Homo sapiens: one gene and its partner. The protein of the gene in region 1 interacts with the protein of each later gene in a biochemical or structural test. Each region holds a gene or a part of one and is shown in the gene's direction. Other genes may lie near its edges.

Region 1 (7,000 bases):
TTTGAGCCTGGTACTAAAAGTGCCAACCTGACTTAGACAAAGGCTTTCCATTGCTTGCCTTTCCTTTCTCAGCCCTGAAACTCTGTTTGCATGGCTGCCTGATTTTCTTTCTTTTTTTTAAATTCGTTCTTGTTGCCCGCATTCGGCTTTGTCTTTGTAGCCACAGATTGAAAACTAATACCAGTGGTTGGATGAAAGAAAGAGAAGACTTTAATAGAACTTTTAAACAATTAAGGGAAGTTCAGAAATAGAGTGAACAGTCCTGTGATTTCTCCATTACTGGAAGTGCTCACATAAAGGTGCTGTCACCTGGCAGGGTTTGGAGTTGGGCTCAGGGGACAGGACTGCTGCCCTGGAGAGGGGTCCGGGAGATGACCTTGGGGCTGTTCCCCTTTCCCTGTGGACTCTGGCTTTCTCTGAGTCCTCAGTGCCTAATCATTGTTCTCCGCTTTTCTTTGGGTAGTTCAGGGCTCCAGAGCCCTGGTGCCCTTCTCCTCTGCTGAGCGTCCACCCAGGGTTCACCTCACCCAAGGTCTCATTTCCTTTGCTGTCATTCCGTTCTCTGCTCAGGACCTTGGCACTCCCTGTTCATTTTGATGATCATTTTGATCACCTATTTATAGACCTGGCATGAAGCAGGCAGGCCAATTAGTGTTCAAGTGGATTGAGTTGTAATAATGTGAGTCAAGTCCTGGTGCTTGTGTGTTAAAGAGCAGTAAGAGATTTTCTGCAGGTGTTAGTGAATTTCAAACTTCACTTTTCTCCTTTGCACAGAGCTCAGCACAGTAAAACCAATTTCAATGCAAGAGCAAAAAGAAAAAAAAAGACACCACAAAAATGAGCTAGCCTTGTTTTAATTTTATTTTACAGATGAGGAATCAGCCTTAGGGAGGTTTCATGACTTGCCCCCCAGAGTGGAACTTGGGTAGAGTTAGAGTCAGGGCCCTGGTCCCTGGTGCTCTTTCCTGGTCGCTTCTCATAGCCAGGACGTTGCTTACATTAGTTCTCAACCCCACTGGGACCAATCATTTTTATTGCCAATCTATTTTGGGGCTCTGTTCTCGTGGCAATAAATCATTCTTTCAGAGCTCCCTATTTAACCTTGTGAGAGCGTGTGTGTGTGGTGGAGGTGCTTACATAAATGCAGTATTTTTAACCTGCCTGGCACGCTTTAGGTTGGCGTTAAATGAATATCTGGAGAATAAAGGTTTGTAGTTATTCTGAAGCATCACGTCCTGTCGTGCTTGGTTTCTTTCATTATTAAATCTTACTCGACTCCTCCTGCAGCCCCTGTCTTTCCAGGGAACAGGTGAAGAAAATCAAGTCTATTAGGGAGAAGCACACATACTTTTATATATTTTGATATGACGGTTTCCTTGTGGAGTATTGAGAGAAGCTTTTCTTCATATTTATACCTTGAATGCCACTTAGGTAGTTGGCCTGGGGCGGGCTGTGCTACTTCTGTTGGTATTGAGAAGCCTGGCAGCTTTGGTCCTTGTGAGCACCAATAATGATTGTATTACAAAGTGGGTCCTTGTTACCCTCAATATTTCAAAAATAGAAACTGAAGGAAATGTAATTTGATAGTGAATGTTGGTTTCTCCTTTTTAGGTGGCACAGTCAGTTTTAGAGGAAAGCAAGGAGATTTCTAAAATTCCTGTAAGTGACTTTCGAGGAATCAAAGAAGTGCAGTAAAGTCATCACTGAAAGAAGCTTTTCATTGAGACCTTGTAAACCGACATATTGATGTGGGATATTGTATTTTTTCCCTTTGCAATTTAACTATTTAAGATTCAAATGAAAATTTAAAGAAGCCATTTCCACCATTTAAATGATTAACCAGATTTAAATGAAGCCGGTGGTGGTGTTCAAAATGAAGCATGTGGTTTACATATGTTTCCTAAATGTACCCTAAAAATATGTAATTTCAGTGGCCTTTTTTGACCTTTTAAATGTTACGATAAAGTTGAGATTTGTTCTGAACTGCAGGTGAAAGATGTGTTTGAAGCTGTCATAATCTAAGTCAGCTGTATTCAATATTTACTTTGTTTATTTACTTGACTATCGAGAAAATAAAATTTTATCTCATAACCTTGGCAGAATTCCAGAGAAAAGTCTAATTCTTAATCAATAGCCACACTTTACTGCCTAGTAAACTCACTGATATTGATAGGGATGAGCTGTGTTTTACTACAAAAAGCAGTGATAACACCCTGCCCCCATTCCTCCTCAATTCTATAATGAATTGGCTTTTATTTCCTTAAGTGCATTGTCTTGACAAAATTTTAACAGCGCCACTGGCAGGAAATAGTAGCGACTCCCTGGACAGTGAAGACTTGGATTTGCGGGAGAATCCCAGTGTATTCTGGTGGAAAGTGCGTGCTCTGACCTCATCCTCCCATTTCTTCCAAGTACTCAGCTGCGTAGACTTGGCCAAACTGACAAGGGTGATGGTGTGGTTGGCCTGGTGGATGGAGATGCTGTCTTTTGAATCTTCTCAGCCTCATTTTAATTAATGGGCTGCAGGGACCAGGCTGGGTCCCCAGCTGGAGCAAGGGGTAAGCGGGTTCGATGTGCATCCACAGGGTTCTCTTCGTCCTATTCCAGTTCTGCTGACGCGCTGTTCAGTGGGCCACTGGGAGAGGGAATGAACAGGGAGACTTCCCAGTGACCCTTGCACTTGGGAATTCTGGCTGCTGTTACTCAGCGGGAGCTGTTCTGGGAATTCCTATTGCTGTGCCTCTGAACTGAGGGGAAGGGAGCATAGAGGAGTGGTCAGAGGCTTGCGGGGCCCTGCATGTGCTGCTGGCTTCCTGCTGGACCCCTGGTCTCCTCCCCCTGTGCCCGCAGAACAGGACTTCGCTCTCACTGCCAAGGTGCCCAGCTCCCTGCTAGTTCGTAAATCTCAAAGAGAGATACCTGGCTAGATTGTCCAGTGAGGACTCCCAGCTTTTTGATGTTACTGAGCCTTCTGTGCAGACAGTCTTGCTTTTGGGGAATCTTGCTCTCATGTTTAATGGTTAACAAGTGCATAAACACTCATTTTCGCTTCTCATTCACTCATGGAAACACTTAATTTGCTTACTGAATAGTTGTGTTGTTACCTTAATTTCCTCTTTTCTGTCCCCTCTCCACATAAGGAAGCCCCTTGAAACCCAAATTACTAATCACCTGCCCCCCGGGAAAGGTTGTATGTGGGGAAAGAGAGAGCAAACCAGAGTGAGGCTACGAGCGGGGGGCAGAGGGCATTGACCTCTGAGATTTCTCCCTGTGCCATTTGATGGCAGAGGGGCTGTGGAAATGTAAAACCTCGTTTTGGTGATGAACATACTTGAGTTTTAGATTACTGGCTCTTTTCATTAGCCACATGTCTACTCTTGTCTGATGGGGGAGGATTGTAGAGTAGTCTAGAGCTGGTGTTTTGGAGGCATCTTCCTATTTGGGCTTTGTCATCAATGAGTGCATTTTAGCAGTTACACTGACAGAGAAAGCTTTCATGAAAACTTACTCAACACAAAGACTGGATTCTAGGTCTAGGGTACTTTGACTTTGTGGTGTCCACGTGAGTTGATCAGGCTTGTTTTCTCACAGTCTGTAGCCCTGCTATGGACAGGGATGAATTGCAGGAGGTTTTTCTTGGGGAGGGATTTCAGTGAGTGGCAGCAGATTTGTCCTGGCCGCTCTGTGGACCCCTTTCCTGAAAGGAGGGGGAGCTGGTGCTGCTCCATTACTGGCTTACTGCAGGGAAGGCCAAGGGGCCCCTTGCTGTCTGTCTGTTGTTGTTAGCATTGAAACTGTGTAGGTGTGAATAGATCACAAACTATAGTACAGCCATTCCATTAATGTTGAGTGAGAGAAGACAGTCTCAAAATGCTGCATGCTGTATGAGTTCCTTTATATGACACTGGCAAAAAGACAGAACCGTAGTGACAGAAAACAGATGGGCATTGATTGCCAGGAGTTAGGGGGTGGGGGAGTATGGCTACAAGGGGGCAGGAGGCAGGTGAAGGATGGGGAACTGATTTGTATTCTGGTTGTGGCAGTTACATGTGTTAAAATTCACAGACCTTTACACACATGCACACAACACACACACACCGTTTAACTGTATATGTTATTTTAAAATGTGACATTAAAAAAAGGCCAATAATAAACTGGGAGAAAAACTATTACAAATCAAAGGATTATATATATGTAATTAGTAAAGGGCTCCCTCAAATCAATTAAGACAAGACATATCTAGAAAGAAAATAGGCAAACAATTAAAAGAAGTATGAATGGCCAAAAAATACATATTCAGCCTCACTCATAATCGAGGAAATGCAGATAGAACCAATGATACCAACAAAAGCCAAAGCTCATATAAGTAATTATTCTCTAAGTAAACTTGAACAAAATTGAGTTAATTTGGAAAGATTTTATATCGATTTGAAAGATAGTAATACTTGTGTTCATACTTTGCTATGTAGGACCTAGCTTCTTATAATTGCCCGGGGGTGATCTAGGGTAATGGTAAAGATAGATAGGGGGAAATAAAGATTCTTTCCTGGGATTCTGTAATACGTGTTAATTTGGAAATCCATCTGGTGTATAAGTCAAATCTGACTTACAATAATCTTTAGCTATAGACAGTTACCATTTTTGCTGCTTCAAAATTTCCCACTCCCATGATTTGTGCTGCTGTCCAGATCGAAGATGACAAGTGGCCCATGCAGGATGATCTTCAGCGCCTCACAGTTCCTGGTGCGAAAGAAGAAGTTTAGTTTCATCTGGAGGGCTTCGTTCCTACATGAGTAACTATAGGAGGTCATTTGCCCTCTGTTCTTAGGCATTCTTGTATATAATTGACAGCTACCTATTTCACGGTATTGACAATTAATAAATGGATTTATGAAGTGTTAGCCCCACCTACTTTTAAGACTCATAACCATAAAACTATGCATGAACTTGAGAAAAACACAGTTCAAATTTACACGTATAATCCTAAAATATTTTTAAATGGGGTTTGTTGGTGCCTGTTTTTTCATTGTGTGTGTGTGTGTGTTTGTGTGTGTGTGTGTGTGTGTGTATGTATGTATGTAGGTATATCTCTTGGAAAGTCATAAAATACCCCTCTTTGGATTTCTGTGGAATAGGTGGTTTCAGTGCAAGAATGAATGAATATATCGGAGACTAATACTTGAAATCTATTTTCAAAGAACTCGTGTTTCCTAGTATATATGAAGTGACATGTATAAATGACATGAATGCTTTCAGGCAAAATGTTTAGATTGTGATTTGAAAATGATGTGCATATGAGAAGTCGTTAAGATGTTGGCCAAAACAGTGTGTGTATAAATTGATCTCCATTGTTTATTCATTTTGCTTTGCTTCCTCTTGCATTGACCCATCCACTTTTTCAAGTTCACAATGATTCTTTTTTGCTGCTGCCATTGAAGGATGCCACTGATACCTGTGAGAGGGCACTCTTTGGCATTTGCATTCTGAAAGTTTTGCATTTTCTTATTTGTGTTTACTTTTTAAGTTCATCCTTGTTCTGCATGACAGATATGCCAGGGCCTGCAGGAATAGCATTAAAATTCTGTTGTTTTTTAGATAACTTTATTAGTTTAAGTTTTAAATGATAAGGACCGAGAGCTACAATTCCTCTGTTTTTTATTCTGAAGCTGAACCACACAAATATTGAAAAACAATGCTTTGACTGGAGTGTTATATATATTTCCACCTAACTAGCTTCACACAATAAAATCTCTAAAGTTTAAATTGCCCAATATTTTGACATCTAAATAACTGGAATAAATCCCTCATTAGTCTAATAGTAAACAAATAGATTTCTCATTTGTAGGTGGCTTTTTAAAAAATTTAAGTTCATGATTATGAGAAATTCTTCCCAGCGTTCACTGCCCTTTTCAGTACCAGAGTGATGAAAGCTGGCATGCAAGGGAACATTACTAGCTCGAAAAGCAAAACAAAACAAAACAAACCCAGATCGCATGGGGGCAGGATGTATTTCAGTTTTTTTGTTTGTTTGTTTGTTTGTTTGTTTTGAGATGGAGTCTCGCTCTGTCACCCAGGCTGGAGTGCAATGGCGCAATCTTGGCTCACTGCAACCTCTGCCTCCCGGGTTCAAGCAGTTCTCTGCCTTAGCCTCCCAAGTAGCTGGGATTACAGGCGCCCGCCACCATGCCCAGCTAATTTTTTTGTATTTCTAGTAGAGACGGGGTTTCACCATCTTGGCCAGGCTGGTCTTGAACTCCTGACCTCGTGATCCACCCATCTTGGGCTCCCAAAGTGCTGGGATTACAGGCGTGAGCCACTGCGTCCGTATTTCACGCTTTTTAAGAGTCACTTCACCTCCATCTAAATTTTGTTGCACTTACCCTAATATGTCTTGGGTCCAGGAGCCTGGAGAACGGGTGCTAATTTGATGGTTTCAGGCTGTACCTTTTACTCACGTGCCAATTCAGATCAGTGCATCCTGATGGGTTGCCCATAGGAGAGCAGCTCTTCATGGCAGGGGCTTCACTGTAGAGTCATTTAGTGCCAGAATGTTGTTAGTAGGTAAATTTTGTTAGTTGGTTGGTATACATATTACTTTTCCAATATTTAATTGCAGAATTTGCAGGATTCATTGTTAGGCCTTTCTCTCATACCTCATGGGTATTGTTTATTAGGGCCAGCCTCAACTCTGCTGGAGTCTGAATTCTCATAAGGTTCAGCCTGTTTGTAAGACGGAAGCTGTCCACTGAACCAAAGAGCTGGAAGCCTTCGAAAGGCATGCAAGATTGAGGTGGAATCACACAGATTTTCGGTGATAACCTGCAGAGTGGACGATGGAGGCTTTGGAAAGTAGGATGGCAGCCTTGCAACAGCCTGCCCCTGGCCATGCTTGCCACACCCTTGCTATCCTCTAAATCTTTAACAGCAGCTGCCAGGGAGCAGCAAGAGAGGCCAGGACCCCTGTCACGTGGGATGAGATAGCACCTTTGGAATTGTGCTC
Region 2 (7,000 bases), on another chromosome or scaffold:
GGAGGCTGGCGAGTATGCCGTTCACGTGCTGTGCAACAGCGAAGACATCCGCCTCAGCCCCTTCATGGCTGACATCCGTGACGCGCCCCAGGACTTCCACCCAGACAGGGTAAAGAGCAGGCTGTGATGGCCTAAGTCTCGCCCTGCTGCTCCTGCTTGGGGTCTGGTGGGGATGGCACTCTGTGTCCCTGGCCACCCTGCCTGGGTTGTAGCTCTGGCAGCCTGGACCTGGCCCCCTGACAGCTGGGTGGTCTCCCGCTAGGTGAAGGCACGTGGGCCTGGATTGGAGAAGACAGGTGTGGCCGTCAACAAGCCAGCAGAGTTCACAGTGGATGCCAAGCACGGTGGCAAGGCCCCACTTCGGGTCCAAGTCCAGGTAGAGCACCCACGGGTGTTGGGGGCAGGGCAGGTGTGGGCACCCAGGCCTGGGCACTGACCAGCAGGCCACCTGCTCCTATCTGCCTGACAGGACAATGAAGGCTGCCCTGTGGAGGCGTTGGTCAAGGACAACGGCAATGGCACTTACAGCTGCTCCTACGTGCCCAGGAAGCCGGTGAAGCACACAGCCATGGTGTCCTGGGGAGGCGTCAGCATCCCCAACAGCCCCTTCAGGGTGAGCCAACCTCCACCGGCCTTTAGTCCATCTCGATAGCATTCACGTAGCACACGATTCGTCCATTTCAAGTGGTTGTGGCACACCATCCTGACTCCCCTGTCCCACAGCTCCTGGTGACCACTAACCTGCTTTCTGCTGTGGCTTTGCCTATCCTGGACATGTTCTATAGATGGAACTGTGTGCCATGTGGCCTTTTGTGTCTGGCTTCTTTCGCTCACCACGAAGTTTTCCGTGTTTTCGTTCATGTTTGGCATGTCTTGGCACTTTGTTCCTTTATAATTATTTTGTTTATTTATTTATTTATTTGAGATGGAGTCTCACACTGTCGCCCAGGCTGGAGTGCAATGGCGCGATCTCGGCTCACTGCAGGCTCTTTCTCCCAGGTTCACACCATTGTCTTGCCTCAGCCTCCCGGGTAGCTGGGACTACAGGCGCCCGCCACCCCCCCGGCTAATTTTTTGTATTTTTAGTAGAGACAAGGTTTCACTGTGTTAGCCAGGATGGTGTCGATCTCCTGACCTTGTGATCTGCCCACCTCGGCCTCCCAAAGTGCTGGGATGACAGGCATGAGCCACCGCGCCCATCCTGGTTTTTTTTTTTTGAGCCGGAGTTTTGCTCTTATTGCCAGGCTGGAGTGCAATGACGTGATCTCAGCTCACTGCAACCTCTGCCTGCCAGATTCAAGCAATTCTCTCCTGCCTCAGCCTCCTGAGTAGCTGGGATTGCAGGCATACGCCACCATTCCCAGCTAATTTTGTATTTTTAGTAGAGACGGGGTTTCTCCATGTTGGTCAGACTGGTCTCAACCGCCTGACCCCAGGTGGTCCGCCCACCTTGGCCTTCCAAAGTGCTGGGATTACAGGCATGAGCCACCACGTCCGGCCGCTTCATTTATTTTTATGGCCGCATAATACTCCATTGTGTGGCCAGACCACATTCCATTTTTCCGTTCACTTGCTAACAGATATTGAGGATGAGCTTGCCTTTGGTGATCATGAACAGTGCTGTTAACAGTGAGTCCAGGTGTTTGCGTGGACATTTGCTTTCATTTCTCTTGGGTAGTTGCCTCGGAGTGAACCGGAGCATCACACAGTCCCTCTGTGGTCAACTGAGGAACTGCCAGACTCTTCCCAAGGCAGCTGGACCATTTTGTGTGCCTGCCAGTGTAGCTGAGGGAGCTTCTGAGTCTCCTCCAGGCTGCTCATGCCCTTGCCCTTGCCCCTGTGCCCTGCAGGTGAATGTGGGAGCTGGCAGCCACCCCAACAAGGTCAAAGTATACGGCCCCGGAGTAGCCAAGACAGGGCTCAAGGCCCACGAGCCCACCTACTTCACTGTGGACTGCGCCGAGGCTGGCCAGGGTAAGGCCTGGCTGTGGGTGGGAGGGCAGGTGGCTGGGGTGTCCCTGCGAGGTCTCAGCCTCCGCTCCTCTCCCCGCCGCAGGGGACGTCAGCATCGGCATCAAGTGTGCCCCTGGAGTGGTAGGCCCCGCCGAAGCTGACATCGACTTCGACATCATCCGCAATGACAATGACACCTTCACGGTCAAGTACACGCCCCGGGGGGCTGGCAGCTACACCATTATGGTCCTCTTTGCTGACCAGGTGGGTGCTGCGCTCCTGGCCGCTAAGATGTCATTGCGGATGACGTCTGCCCTCCTCTAAGGCCTTCTCCTCCCACTGCCTGCAGGCCACGCCCACCAGCCCCATCCGAGTCAAGGTGGAGCCCTCTCATGACGCCAGTAAGGTGAAGGCCGAGGGCCCTGGCCTCAGTCGCACTGGTGAGGACAGGTACCCCATGGCAGGTTGCGGGGCATCAAGGGTAGGAGGGCTTGGGGCAGGGTGCCCCTACATGGTCCCTGTGTGTTCCTCAGGTGTCGAGCTTGGCAAGCCCACCCACTTCACAGTAAATGCCAAAGCTGCTGGCAAAGGCAAGCTGGACGTCCAGTTCTCAGGACTCACCAAGGGGGATGCAGTGCGAGATGTGGACATCATCGACCACCATGACAACACCTACACAGTCAAGTACACGCCTGTCCAGCAGGTAGCCACACCCTCCACTACAGTCACCGAGTCCCCAGCCTCCTCATGCAGCAGCCTAGGGGACAGCTCCGAGGGACTTTCTGCCCACTCTCATTCCTTACCTGGGAGAGGACAGGCATGGAGGTCCAGGAGGGGGTTGGGGAGCAATTCTGGTGTCTCTAAATACCCCCTTCCCTTCTGCACCCTTCCCAGGGTCCAGTAGGCGTCAATGTCACTTATGGAGGGGATCCCATCCCTAAGAGCCCTTTCTCAGTGGCAGTATCTCCAAGCCTGGACCTCAGCAAGATCAAGGTGTCTGGCCTGGGAGAGAGTAAGTAGTTGGGGCCCTTGTCGCAAAGGCCTTTGTCACATCCAGGGATTGGCTGAGCTGGGTGTCATGTCTCTCTCCTTCCTTTCATCGTTTCCACAGAGGTGGACGTTGGCAAAGACCAGGAGTTCACAGTCAAATCAAAGGGTGCTGGTGGTCAAGGCAAAGTGGCATCCAAGATTGTGGGCCCCTCGGGTGCAGCGGTGCCCTGCAAGGTGGAGCCAGGCCTGGGGGCTGACAACAGTGTGGTGCGCTTCCTGCCCCGTGAGGAAGGGCCCTATGAGGTGGAGGTGACCTATGACGGCGTGCCCGTGCCTGGCAGCCCCTTTCCTCTGGAAGCTGTGGCCCCCACCAAGCCTAGCAAGGTAATTGGGGTATGGGAGGCCCTAAGGGTAGAACCCACTGTGCTCTCTGAGGGCCCCAAAGGTACCCCATCTTCTCCAGACCTGCCCTAAATCCTTTTTTTTTTTTTTTTTTCCTGAGACAGACTGTCAACCTTGACCCTGTTTAAGTGAGAGTAAAGGGGAGGAGGGAAATAGAAACCCACAAAAAGTCATCAGGGTTGAAGAATTTCTTTTTTTTTTTTTTCTTTCTTTTTTTTTTTTTTTTTTTTTTTTTTTTTTTTTGAGAAAGAGTCTCACTCTGTCGCCCAGGCTGGAGTGCAGTGGCGCGATATTGGCTCACGGCACCCTCCGCCTCCTGGCTTCAAGCAATACTCCTGCCTCAGCCTCCCAAGTAGCTGGGATTACAGGTGCCCGCCACCATGCCCAGCTAATTTTGGTAATTTTAGTAGAGACGAGATTTCACCATGTTGGCCAGGCTGTTCTCAAACTCCTGACCTCAGGTGATCCACCCACCTTGGCCTCCCAAAGGGCTGAGATTACAGGCGTGAGTGACCGCGCCCTGCCCTCCTTTTTGTCCTTATGACTGATGGATGGCCCATCTGGCAGGCAGCCTGGGCCCGCCCGTGTCCCTGTTTGGTGAGGGCAGGAAGCCAGGGCAAGGGGAGGCAGGTGGAAAGTCAAGCAGGAGGTCTGGGATCGGGGCATAGTGTGGCCTTGGCTCCTGACCCCTTCTTCCCTCAGGTGAAGGCGTTTGGGCCGGGGCTGCAGGGAGGCAGTGCGGGCTCCCCCGCCCGCTTCACCATCGACACCAAGGGCGCCGGCACAGGTGGCCTGGGCCTGACGGTGGAGGGCCCCTGTGAGGCGCAGCTCGAGTGCTTGGACAATGGGGATGGCACATGTTCCGTGTCCTACGTGCCCACCGAGCCCGGGGACTACAACATCAACATCCTCTTCGCTGACACCCACATCCCTGGCTCCCCATTCAAGGCCCACGTGGTTCCCTGCTTTGACGCATCCAAAGTCAAGTGCTCAGGCCCCGGGCTGGAGCGGGCCACCGCTGGGGAGGTGGGCCAATTCCAAGTGGACTGCTCGAGCGCGGGCAGCGCGGAGCTGACCATTGAGATCTGCTCGGAGGCGGGGCTTCCGGCCGAGGTGTACATCCAGGACCACGGTGATGGCACGCACACCATTACCTACATTCCCCTCTGCCCCGGGGCCTACACCGTCACCATCAAGTACGGCGGCCAGCCCGTGCCCAACTTCCCCAGCAAGCTGCAGGTGGAACCTGCGGTGGACACTTCCGGTGTCCAGTGCTATGGGCCTGGTATTGAGGGCCAGGGTGAGTTGCCCTGCCGTGGGGTATGTGACGGGGGACAGGGACCAGAACCCCCGAGCCCCAAGCCTCCTCTCTGTGCCTTTGCAGGTGTCTTCCGTGAGGCCACCACTGAGTTCAGTGTGGACGCCCGGGCTCTGACACAGACCGGAGGGCCGCACGTCAAGGCCCGTGTGGCCAACCCCTCAGGCAACCTGACGGAGACCTACGTTCAGGACCGTGGCGATGGCATGTACAAAGTGGAGTACACGCCTTACGAGGAGGGTGCGTGCTGGGGACTCCCACAGGCTGGCAGACGGGGTGGGTGGGGTGGCCCGGGCTCCTCCTGACCTGGCCTGCACTCCTCCAGGACTGCACTCCGTGGACGTGACCTATGACGGCAGTCCCGTGCCCAGCAGCCCCTTCCAGGTGCCCGTGACCGAGGGCTGCGACCCCTCCCGGGTGCGTGTCCACGGGCCAGGCATCCAAAGTGGCACCACCAACAAGCCCAACAAGTTCACTGTGGAGACCAGGTAAGGGAGCCCCCAGGAGCCCGTGTGGCTGGTGGGCCTGGGAACCCCAGGAATGACCGGCTGTCTGTTTGGACCAGGGGAGCTGGCACGGGCGGCCTGGGCCTGGCTGTAGAGGGCCCCTCCGAGGCCAAGATGTCCTGCATGGATAACAAGGACGGCAGCTGCTCGGTCGAGTACATCCCTTATGAGGCTGGCACCTACAGCCTCAACGTCACCTATGGTGGCCATCAAGTGCCAGGTGAGGAGGTGGCGGCCAGGGCAGGGCTGGGACTGTCTGCTCGTCCCCACCCTGTCTCATACAGCCGCCATCCCTTTGCCCCAACCCTCAGGCAGTCCTTTCAAGGTCCCTGTGCATGATGTGACAGATGCGTCCAAGGTCAAGTGCTCTGGGCCCGGCCTGAGCCCAGGCATGGTTCGTGCCAACCTCCCTCAGTCCTTCCAGGTGGACACAAGCAAGGCTGGTGTGGCCCCATTGCAGGTCAAAGTGCAAGGGCCCAAAGGTGAGTGTTTGCATGCCTGGAGCCAGGGGTCAGGAGGGCAGTGTCCTGTTTGAGGGCCGGGAAAGGAAACTGGAGGCCCAAAGTGAGGACCAGAGTGCAGAGGTGGTGCAAGTGTGTAGGTGTTTTTGGAAGAGCCTCAGGTGACAGTGCAGCCAGGTGGGGGACTTGGAGGAGGTAGAGCAGATGGGACTGGTCACTGAGCAGATGTGGCAGGAAGGCAGGCAGGCAAGGGTCCCAGCTGGCACCCAGATGGGTGTCTTTCGTGCCAGAGGGGGTCAAGGCCATTCCCAGGGTCGGGTGGATGAGGATAAAGCGAGGTCTAGGCCTGGGGCTGGGTCCTGGCCGTCCAGTGTGGTGGGGTAGGAATGGAGGCCCAGGAGACTAGCTGATGCTCTGTCCCTGGGGCTGGGGCCAGGCCTGGTGGAGCCAGTGGACGTGGTAGACAACGCTGATGGCACCCAGACCGTCAATTATGTGCCCAGCCGAGAAGGGCCCTACAGCATCTCAGTACTGTATGGAGATGAAGAGGTACCCCGGAGGTAAGAGGCAGGGCCTGCTGCCTGTGGGGAGTGGCCCAGGCTGGATGCTGAGAACCTGTCTGACTGCTCACAACACCAATCCCTCACAGCCCCTTCAAGGTCAAGGTGCTGCCTACTCATGATGCCAGCAAGGTGAAGGCCAGTGGCCCCGGGCTCAACACCACTGGCGTGCCTGCCAGCCTGCCCGTGGAGTTCACCATCGATGCAAAGGACGCCGGGGAGGGCCTGCTGGCTGTCCAGATCACGGTGAGCTCCGGGCACAGGCAGGGGAGGCAGGGGGGCCTGGGCGGCTGGAGTGTGGGCTGCGGGTGGCTGGTGTCTGATCTCCCTGCGGAGCTGCACCAAGGAGGGCAGGGAAGGACAGGGCCCCTGTCTTTGGTTTGCTAAGGTTGTGACTACCTTAGGATGGTGGTGACAGGCACAGGCTTCCCCAGACGTGCACTTGCTGCTAACTTTGAGCACGTCACCAAAGCCTTCTGTGCCTCAGTTTCCCCACCTGTAATATTCTCATGGGGCAGGTATAGGATAGAAGCTTGAGATCACCCCGGTGAGCTCCTCCTAGTGCTGGCCAGGCCCTGGGGCTGAGGATGGGTGCCAAGCTGGCTGGCCGCGCCTGTTGTCATGTGGGAAGTGTGGGATGTTTTAGTCTCCATTCTGGACTCTGCCAGGTGCAGGCAGCCCTTTTGGGCCATAGCAGTTAAGATGCCTGAGGCCCAGAGACTGTCCCTGTAGCAGCAGCGCTGGGCACTCTGGGAGCGCCTGAGGCAGGCCCGGGGCTACTCGGGCTTGGGCCAACTGCCTCCCCTGCCT

The links. The genes of interacting proteins can lie anywhere in the genome.
Region 2: the proteins of TRIO (region 1) and FLNA form a complex in vitro, tested with the Homo sapiens proteins (one study listed by BioGRID).

The regions. Positions count from the first base shown.
Region 1 is NC_000005.10:14,146,342-14,153,341, forward strand, and holds part of TRIO (triple functional domain protein), read left to right. Parts: intron 1-7,000. UniProt on the Homo sapiens protein: Guanine nucleotide exchange factor (GEF) for RHOA and RAC1 GTPases. Involved in coordinating actin remodeling, which is necessary for cell migration and growth. Plays a key role in the regulation of neurite outgrowth and lamellipodia formation.
Region 2 is NC_000023.11:154,357,635-154,364,634, reverse strand, and holds part of FLNA (filamin-A), read left to right. Parts: coding exon 1-109; intron 110-262; coding exon 263-376; intron 377-469; coding exon 470-613; intron 614-1,850; coding exon 1,851-1,974; intron 1,975-2,056; coding exon 2,057-2,217; intron 2,218-2,302; coding exon 2,303-2,393; intron 2,394-2,486; coding exon 2,487-2,656; intron 2,657-2,847; coding exon 2,848-2,965; intron 2,966-3,064; coding exon 3,065-3,327; intron 3,328-4,047; coding exon 4,048-4,645; intron 4,646-4,729; coding exon 4,730-4,903; intron 4,904-4,988; coding exon 4,989-5,151; intron 5,152-5,228; coding exon 5,229-5,389; intron 5,390-5,480; coding exon 5,481-5,651; intron 5,652-6,066; coding exon 6,067-6,190; intron 6,191-6,279; coding exon 6,280-6,436; intron 6,437-7,000. UniProt on the Homo sapiens protein: Promotes orthogonal branching of actin filaments and links actin filaments to membrane glycoproteins. Anchors various transmembrane proteins to the actin cytoskeleton and serves as a scaffold for a wide range of cytoplasmic signaling proteins.